Homo sapiens: one gene and its partner. The protein of the gene in region 1 interacts with the protein of each later gene in a biochemical or structural test. Each region holds a gene or a part of one and is shown on either strand. Other genes may lie near its edges. The genes, in order: ARHGEF6 and SIRPA.

Region 1 (3,821 bases):
GTTGAATCCACAGATGTGAAACATGTGGATATGGGGGGCCACCTGTATTAAGCACCTACAAAGTGCTAGGCCCTGGAGAAGGCAGAGACACATCTTACCTCAAGAAAGGGGAGGTGGTCAAGTGAAGGCAGTGAGTGTGCACACCTCTGAAGGAACTTGGCCTAGAAGAGAGGAAGCCAGTGGCTCAGGGAGACCCAAGATTAAGCACTTGAGCTCTGAGAGGGAGGATCCAGAGTGAGGGAGGTGCAGGAGAGCTGTTTGGTTGGGCCCCCATGCCTGTTCTGTCACCTCTTCTGTCCCAGAGCCTGGAGACATTCTGGGCAGAGGACACCTACATCTTTGCTGATGATGTGATAATCTCCAAACCTCACTCCACCCTTGATGAAAATGGTCTTAGGAGACATACCTACCTTACCCTATAAGACTGTAAAGAGAACAAATGGGGGTGATGATGCTTCTGAGGCCCTTTAAGCACATTGTGTTTCAGTGCAGTGCTACTGTCAACCTTTTACTACAATGACAAAACACTGTAGCATAGGATGTAGTGTGTCCTTCCTTGGAGATTTGCAGGGAAGAGTGATCACTGGTCAGCTCTTTGCTCTGGAGGAGGCAAAACAGGAAAGAATGGAGGTCTTGGTTGTGGACAGGTATTACAGGGGCTCTTTTGCATTATTTTTCTGAATACAAAATGCTTCCCACCTCGGGAAGATTGAATCAGTGTATTTGGCCATTTAGAATTTCTCATGTCAGGAAAATTTAGTCAGCAAATGATGGGTGACTGTCCTCTGGGTGTAATGTAGCAACATGCTATGAACAAAGACCCTTCTGTAACAATAGTGGAAAAGAACTAACACCCACTATTTCTACTCTTCACTAGTAACTCTCCCTCCTCCCCCATCTTGCAACCCTTGTTTGTAGGTACTCGAAAAGATTCCATTCCACAAGTCCTACTCCCTGAGGAAGAGAAACTCATCATTGAAGAAACCAGAAGCAACGGCCAGACCATCATGGAAGAAAAGTGAGTAGAGCAGGCAAAACCTTGCCTAGTTTCTCTTGGGGCTGGCAAGAAGGTCTGGTAGGACGGGGAGCTCCTGGAGAGTCTATGATGAGGGACAACTCCTCCTTACCTGGGAATGCGGCCTGCTTTGCTGTGCATGCATTTGGGAGACTTTAGAGGGCTGCCCACTAACAAATGGAAAGAGGAAGGAAAAGCAGCGGTGACAGAGCCCTCCAAGGCAGCTCCAGCTGGCAGCTGCCCCTGCAGCCAGCTCCCCATCCAGTAAGCTGCTTCTGAGCACATGGGAATATCAATGCCCTGGATGGGTTTAGGAAGTGGCTGGGAATTCCAGCCACAGAACCAATTTCCTTGCCCGGAGAGATGCCACTCACATGTTTTGAGTCAGAAGCTGTGCTTTCACATTTTTGACATCATTTAAAATCCTACAGCAATCCGGTTAGATAAACATTACTCTCACCACTTTCACAGATAAAGAAACTGAGGTACAGGAAGTTCAGGGAAATTATGTCTCTGACTTACCTTTACACAGTAGTGTGGGTGACCTAATGGGGGAAAATCAGGTTAAGTACCTTCTGGCTCATAAAATTAACACAAAGTAGCCAAATAATTCATTTGTCTAAACTTGAGTCATTTCTGAAGTCAGGCCTAAATTTGCATAGGACAGCATATTTCAAGGTGCTTGGCATTGTCAATGCATTTTACATCTGATGTGTGAAGTGATACAGCAAAATGGTTAAGTACTTGGGCTCAAGCAAAAAACAGTGTGGTTCAACTCCCACTTCTGCTACTCATTAGCTGTGTGACCTGGGGCAAGTTGCTTCACCTCTCTGTGCCTCAGTTTCCTCATCTGTAAAATAAGGATGACGGTAATGCTTTCAGAGTTGTTGTGAGGTTAAGTGAAATAAGTATAAAGGCTAGCTCAATAAATAATGTTAGTTAATTCTTATTATAACGATATTCATTTTTACAACTTTGTGAGGTTTTCAGAAAATGTGCTATTATCCCCATTTTACATGTAAAGAAACTAAGACCAAGAGAGGATGAGAAGGAAACTGGTTCCCAGAGAACAGAGGACTAGTAAGTGGCAGGATCAGAACCAAAACTTAGATCTCCAAAATCTTTGTCCAGGGAGAGACCCAGAGAGGAAAAGGCTGTTCTGCAACCCAGTAATTACCAAAAAATTACTTTTTTGGGTACTGTATGGTTGAGATATTCCAGAAAGAATGCCTCTGACTTTGTGTCATGTGCAGTCAGAGAACTGGGAAGGGCAATGTCATAGCACAGATACTGTAGACTAGGCAATCTTGTGATACCTCTCATTATATGATAGGTGATGTTCATTCCTGCCCCAAAGCTAGAGAAATCAAAACCTTATGACGGGAATTGAAAACGTCGAACTCCTAAAAACAGAGAGCAGAATGGTAGTTTCTAGGGACTGAGGGGAAAGGGGAAATGGGGAGATGTTGGTCAAAGGGTACCAAATCTCAGGTATGCAGGATGAATAAGTTCTGGAGAACTAATGTACAGCATGTTGACTACAGTTGGCCCTCTGCATGCGTGGGCTCTGCATCTGTGGATTCAACCAACCCCAGATCAAAAAGATATTCAGAAAAAAATGGATGGTTGCATCTGTATTGAACATGTACAGATTTTTTTCATACCTAGTAAAGTTTTTCTTTTTCCGCCTTTGTTGAGGGATAATTGACAAAGGTGTACAATGTGATGTCTTGATATATGTATGCACTGTTATACCATATTGTTTTTTCCTAAGAAATATGGTATAACAAATATTTGCATAGCATTTACATTGTATTAGGTATGATAAGTAATCTAGATATGATTTAAAGTGTATGGGAAGATGTGCATTGGTTATATGCAAATACTATGCCATTTTATGTTAAGGACTTGAGCATCTGTGGATTTTGGTATCCATGGGGGTCCTTGAACCAATACCCCATGGATACCGAGGGAGGGAAGACTGCATAGTTTACAATGGAGTATACTTGAAGTTTGCTAAGAGTGTAGATTTCCACCACACACATACAAAAGGTAACTATGTGAGGAGATGGATATGTTAATTAGCTTGATTATGGTAACCACTTCACAATGTATACATATATCAAGACATCACATTGTACAGCTTTGTCAATTATCCCTCAACAAAGCTAGAAAAAGAAAAACTTAGTGACGGGCCCTAGTCTCTTGTGTTTTGTTCACCCAAGCTGGGAAGTGAGTAGAAAAGGAGGAGGGAAGTATAGAAAAGGTGTAATGACATTGCATTTAGCTAAGCATGTGTGGTGGTGGTTGTTCTTCCATCAAAGTCAAGAAGATGGAAACCATTTAGAGCAGTACCATTCCCAATCAGCTAGAAAGTCCACTGTTTTTCAGGATCTGTATTTTTATAAAGTGGCTTTTATTGTTAAGTATTTTAACAGTACCTCAGTGCAAGCCATTTGTCTCTGAATTTTATCTTTATTTTCTAGGAGCCTTGTTGATACTGTTTACGCCTTGAAGGACGAGGTCAGAGAACTGAAGCAGGTAATAAAATATAAAATCATTTTCTCGGGTAATAGAACCATTCTCTTTTTCTTGCCTCACGCTGCTCATGCTTTCAGGGAAGGCCTAGGAGCAAGGTAGCGAGGGGGGATTTTTGTTTTCCTTGTGTCATCAAGGTAGGTTTTGTTGATTTTATCATGTAAGCCTTGAATTTAAATTTCCGAGGCTTGCTTGTATTTCTATGTAGTAGTTCACAATAGAGTCCCAAAGTTAGTTACAACTTTCCTGTTCTCTGACATCCATAAAC
Region 2 (3,821 bases), on another chromosome or scaffold:
CCATCACAAGGTGACACCATAGTTGAGTCTTGAAGGAAACAGGAAAGTTAGCCAAGAGGAAAAATGATCAAAGGGGTCCTTCGAGGCTGCTATTGAAGCATGAAGTACATAACATCAAATGCCACCCCCCCCCCGAAATATCTGGTGGGCAGATGAGTGGGTACATGAGGGCAGGGCAGTGAATTAGCCTGGAGGCAGCACGTCAGACCACGTGGGACTCTGAGCAGGGCGATGAGTTGGACTTGAACCAGCCAGCCAGTGGGAAGCTCCAGGAGGGCTGGAGGCCAGTAGTGTGGGGACAGATCTGCGTGATCTTCCCCAGCAGACGTGCCCCTGCTCCTGGAGGGTTCTTTCTGTGGCCACGTGGGGCTTGTCATGTCTCAGAACTGCTTTCAGAGCCAAGCACTCATGCCAAATCCATTAATAACCCTGCTGCCAAGCCCCACTGCTCATTTCTGACATTATCCATGCTAACATCCCCGGGGTTGCCGGCTTGAGAATTTACACAACTTCTGCCAAGCCAGTGGCTCTGGTTTGCTCATCACCTTGACCGTGACCCTCCAGTGAGTCAAGTCATGACCTCCAATTACAGAAGCAAGTGCACGAACAACTTCTTTGATTAACTTGGACATCTTGGTCTTTTTCTTTTCTTTCTTTAATGATGATACATAGATGTTTATAATACAGAACATTTGGAGAATATGGGAAACTAAAAAGGAGAAAAAAAATACCATGCAAAGACCACTGCAGTTTGCATTTTGCTATGTTTCCTTCCAGTGTTATCCACACATTTTTCATAATTGAGATAATCCTACAGAGAATTTTCCTTTTTCACTTATCATTTTAATGTAAGCAATTTTAACTTAAAAAAAAAACCTCCTCATAAACCTTTTAAATCTTTATCTGTGGATTTATCCTAATTTCCCTAACCAGTCCCAATTGGCAGAGCCCTAAGACATAAACCTCCTCCCCCATCCAGCCCTTGACAAATGCCTTTGTGTTGAAAGCTTTTTCTATATTTTGAATTCCCCCAAAAAAAAGTGCAATTATGAGTCAAAGGATGAGGACATCTTCCAAGCTCTTGATTTTGCCAGCTGCTTCCCAAAAGGATTGTACTGGTTTGCCTCTCCCACCAGTGACGTATGAAAGCTCCAGTTCATTTCACCATAGCTTCCCCAGCACCAAGTATTATAATTTTTAAAGATCCTTGCCAATAGAGTAGGTTAAAAAAATGATAGTGCATTGCTTAGAATTCCTTTTTAGTGAGATTGACCCCTTTGTCCAAACATTTGATATGCAGTTGTATTTCTGTTATGAGTCCTTCGTTCATGTCCTCAACCCATATAGAAAATGGAGCCTAAATGTTATTCTTATCAGTTTGCATGAGCACTTGAGATAGTGAGGGTATTTTTATCTGTGTGTCTCTTTCCTTTTTAGGTTGCATGAGCCCGAGAAGAATGCCAGAGAAATAACACAGGTACAGTCCTTGGTGAGATGCCCTTCCTGGGAAACTCCGTGGCGTGGTTGCTTCACATCAACCGGAATTGCAGATCTGGTTCTAAATTAAGACTCCTTGTGGGGTGGAGGGTGGAGGATCTTACACTCCTAGCTTTCCCCATGTCCTGTGCATATTCCTTCTCTCTACTGCAGCCAAGAGTGGCTGTTGCAGCCTCATGACTCAGTGCGACCCATTGCACAACTCCCCAGGGGCACCATTCACAATCCGTCCTATGAAAATGGTGCCCTGGAGTCAGGCTGCAGCTCCCTTAGTGTGGATCGTGCCTTCCCATCTCTCTACATTTGCCCAGGCCCATCCCTCTACCAGGAGCGCCACTCCCAGCTCACTGCCCGCTCCTCACAGCCAGGCTTTTCTATGCTGGAACTGCAAAGCCCAGCCTGCCAGGGCCTCTCCCACCTTTGCTGATGGAAAGACCCCATGTCATTAATTACCTCACACAAGGGCACACTCACTCAAGCTGGAGGTTTCTGGTCAGCATTGCTGAGATGATTTTGCAGCAACACGGTTTCTGAGAAACCTAGCCCTGCTTATCACCGGCTGATGCTGTCAGACCTTGAAGGCAGAGGGCTGCTCAGCATCTTGTAACAAGACAGGCCCTGCTCTGAACCCGGAACGAGAGCGCGCCAGCTGTCCTTGACATTTCCAAGGCAGTTGTCATCTTTTTAGATGTAATCTGTTGAAGGAGTCGGGCTGGTGAAAGGCGCAGCATTTGTAGACCAAAATGCCTTGGCCCTGCCCTTGTGACCCATGGGGTCCCCCCGCAGCCCCGGACATGAGCTCGAGTTGTAATTAAGAAAAAACAATTTCCAGTCATGAGCGAGGGAGATCTTCTCCCCCATCATTTTACTTCTGGACTTCCTCCTGGAATCTTCTGGGGGAAAAAAATGATGGTGAGAAGAATGGGTCATGGAAACCTCTACGAAATTCACAGCAGAGACTTACTGGGCACCCACTGTGTGCCACGCACTGGACAGTGAGCCAGACAGTCACAGCCCAGCTGGCAGAGTGCCTGCGATTCCAGTGCCAGGTGCCAGCCCTGGCCAGGGAGGGAGTTGCACGCTGTCAACACGGATTTCCCAGACAGAAGCAAATGAGAGCACGCAGGGCTCAGGACAGAGGAGCTGTGTGCTAAGAGCACAGTCGTAGAGTCCAACACACTTTGGTTCTTTGCCAGCCGGACAACTTTGTCCACTTTATTGAACCTCCCTTGGTCTCAGTGTCTTCAGCCGTAAAGTGGAATAGATAATCCTTCCCAAGCAGGGTTGTGGTAAGAGTGGATGGGGTGATCTATGTGATTGTGTGCTGCTTGTAAGCCCTGAGAACTGAAATCAGCCATTACCGTGCACCAACTAGGAGGTGTGCCGGTTGGTGGTAGCTTTATTCTGTTCTATCACGCAGGGGCCAGTCACAGAGGGAGCAAAGTTTATCATTCATGATGGGCGCTTTTGAGGCGGCAGTGGCAGGTTGATAGGATTAGCACATGGGAGGTATCCAAGTTTGCTAAGTGGTTAATGATTGCGAACATTTATTGAAGACAGATGCTCAATAGGTACCAGGCTCTGTTCTAAACGCTTTACCTGGATAATCTCATTCCATCCTCACAGCAACCCTGGCAGTAGACACTATTATCATCCCCTCTTTACAGATGGAGAAACTGAGGCCCAGAGAGGTTAAGTGAATTGCTCAAAATCCCTGAGCTAGAACCAGGATTCAAACCCAGGCTTTCTGACTCCAGAACGTTTCCCGCTTCACTAACTGGCGATCTCGTTCTTATACTGCCCCTGTTCTCTGTCTCCCTGTCCCCAGCTTTGCCCTGAGTGAAGGTGAAATTATTGCCATCCACTCATATATTCATTCAATATGGATCAGACTTCTTATGTGCCAGCCTTGGTTTCTGAATCATAACAAATGCCCAGTGAATATTTGTGGAATAAACGCATACATTAATGAATGTCCCCACACGTACCACCATCAGCAGCACCTCCTCAGGCCCCCAAACAGACATGGTCCTGGGTAGCGGGCCCTGTGATGGAAAACAAACATGGGCTGAGGAAGCACAAAGAAGGAACATGGACCCTGCCAGGAGAGGGGAGAGCCAGGGAGGGTCTTAGTATGAGCCATGCTTCATCTGAAATTTACATGGTGGATTGGGATTTGTTACAAGGAGAAGCAGGACAGACACCCTCGAGGGATGAACATGAGAAATGGGTGAAGACTGCAGGTGGTTCAGGCTAGGAGGAGGCAGGAACGGGAGGAGGTGACACTGAGGCGGGGCTGTGAGGAGACTGCACTGTGCGGGTCA

What was found.
Region 2: the proteins of ARHGEF6 (region 1) and SIRPA form a complex in vitro, tested with the Homo sapiens proteins (one large-scale study listed by BioGRID).

What each region holds. Positions count from the first base shown.
Region 1 is NC_000023.11:136,669,217-136,673,037, reverse strand, and holds part of ARHGEF6 (rho guanine nucleotide exchange factor 6), read left to right. Parts: intron 1-918; coding exon 919-1,018; intron 1,019-3,501; coding exon 3,502-3,556; intron 3,557-3,821. UniProt on the Homo sapiens protein: Acts as a RAC1 guanine nucleotide exchange factor (GEF).
Region 2 is NC_000020.11:1,933,278-1,937,098, forward strand, and holds part of SIRPA (tyrosine-protein phosphatase non-receptor type substrate 1 isoform 1 precursor), read left to right. Parts: intron 1-1,437; coding exon 1,438-1,477; coding exon of another isoform or gene 1,478-1,489; intron 1,490-3,821. UniProt on the Homo sapiens protein: Immunoglobulin-like cell surface receptor for CD47. Acts as docking protein and induces translocation of PTPN6, PTPN11 and other binding partners from the cytosol to the plasma membrane.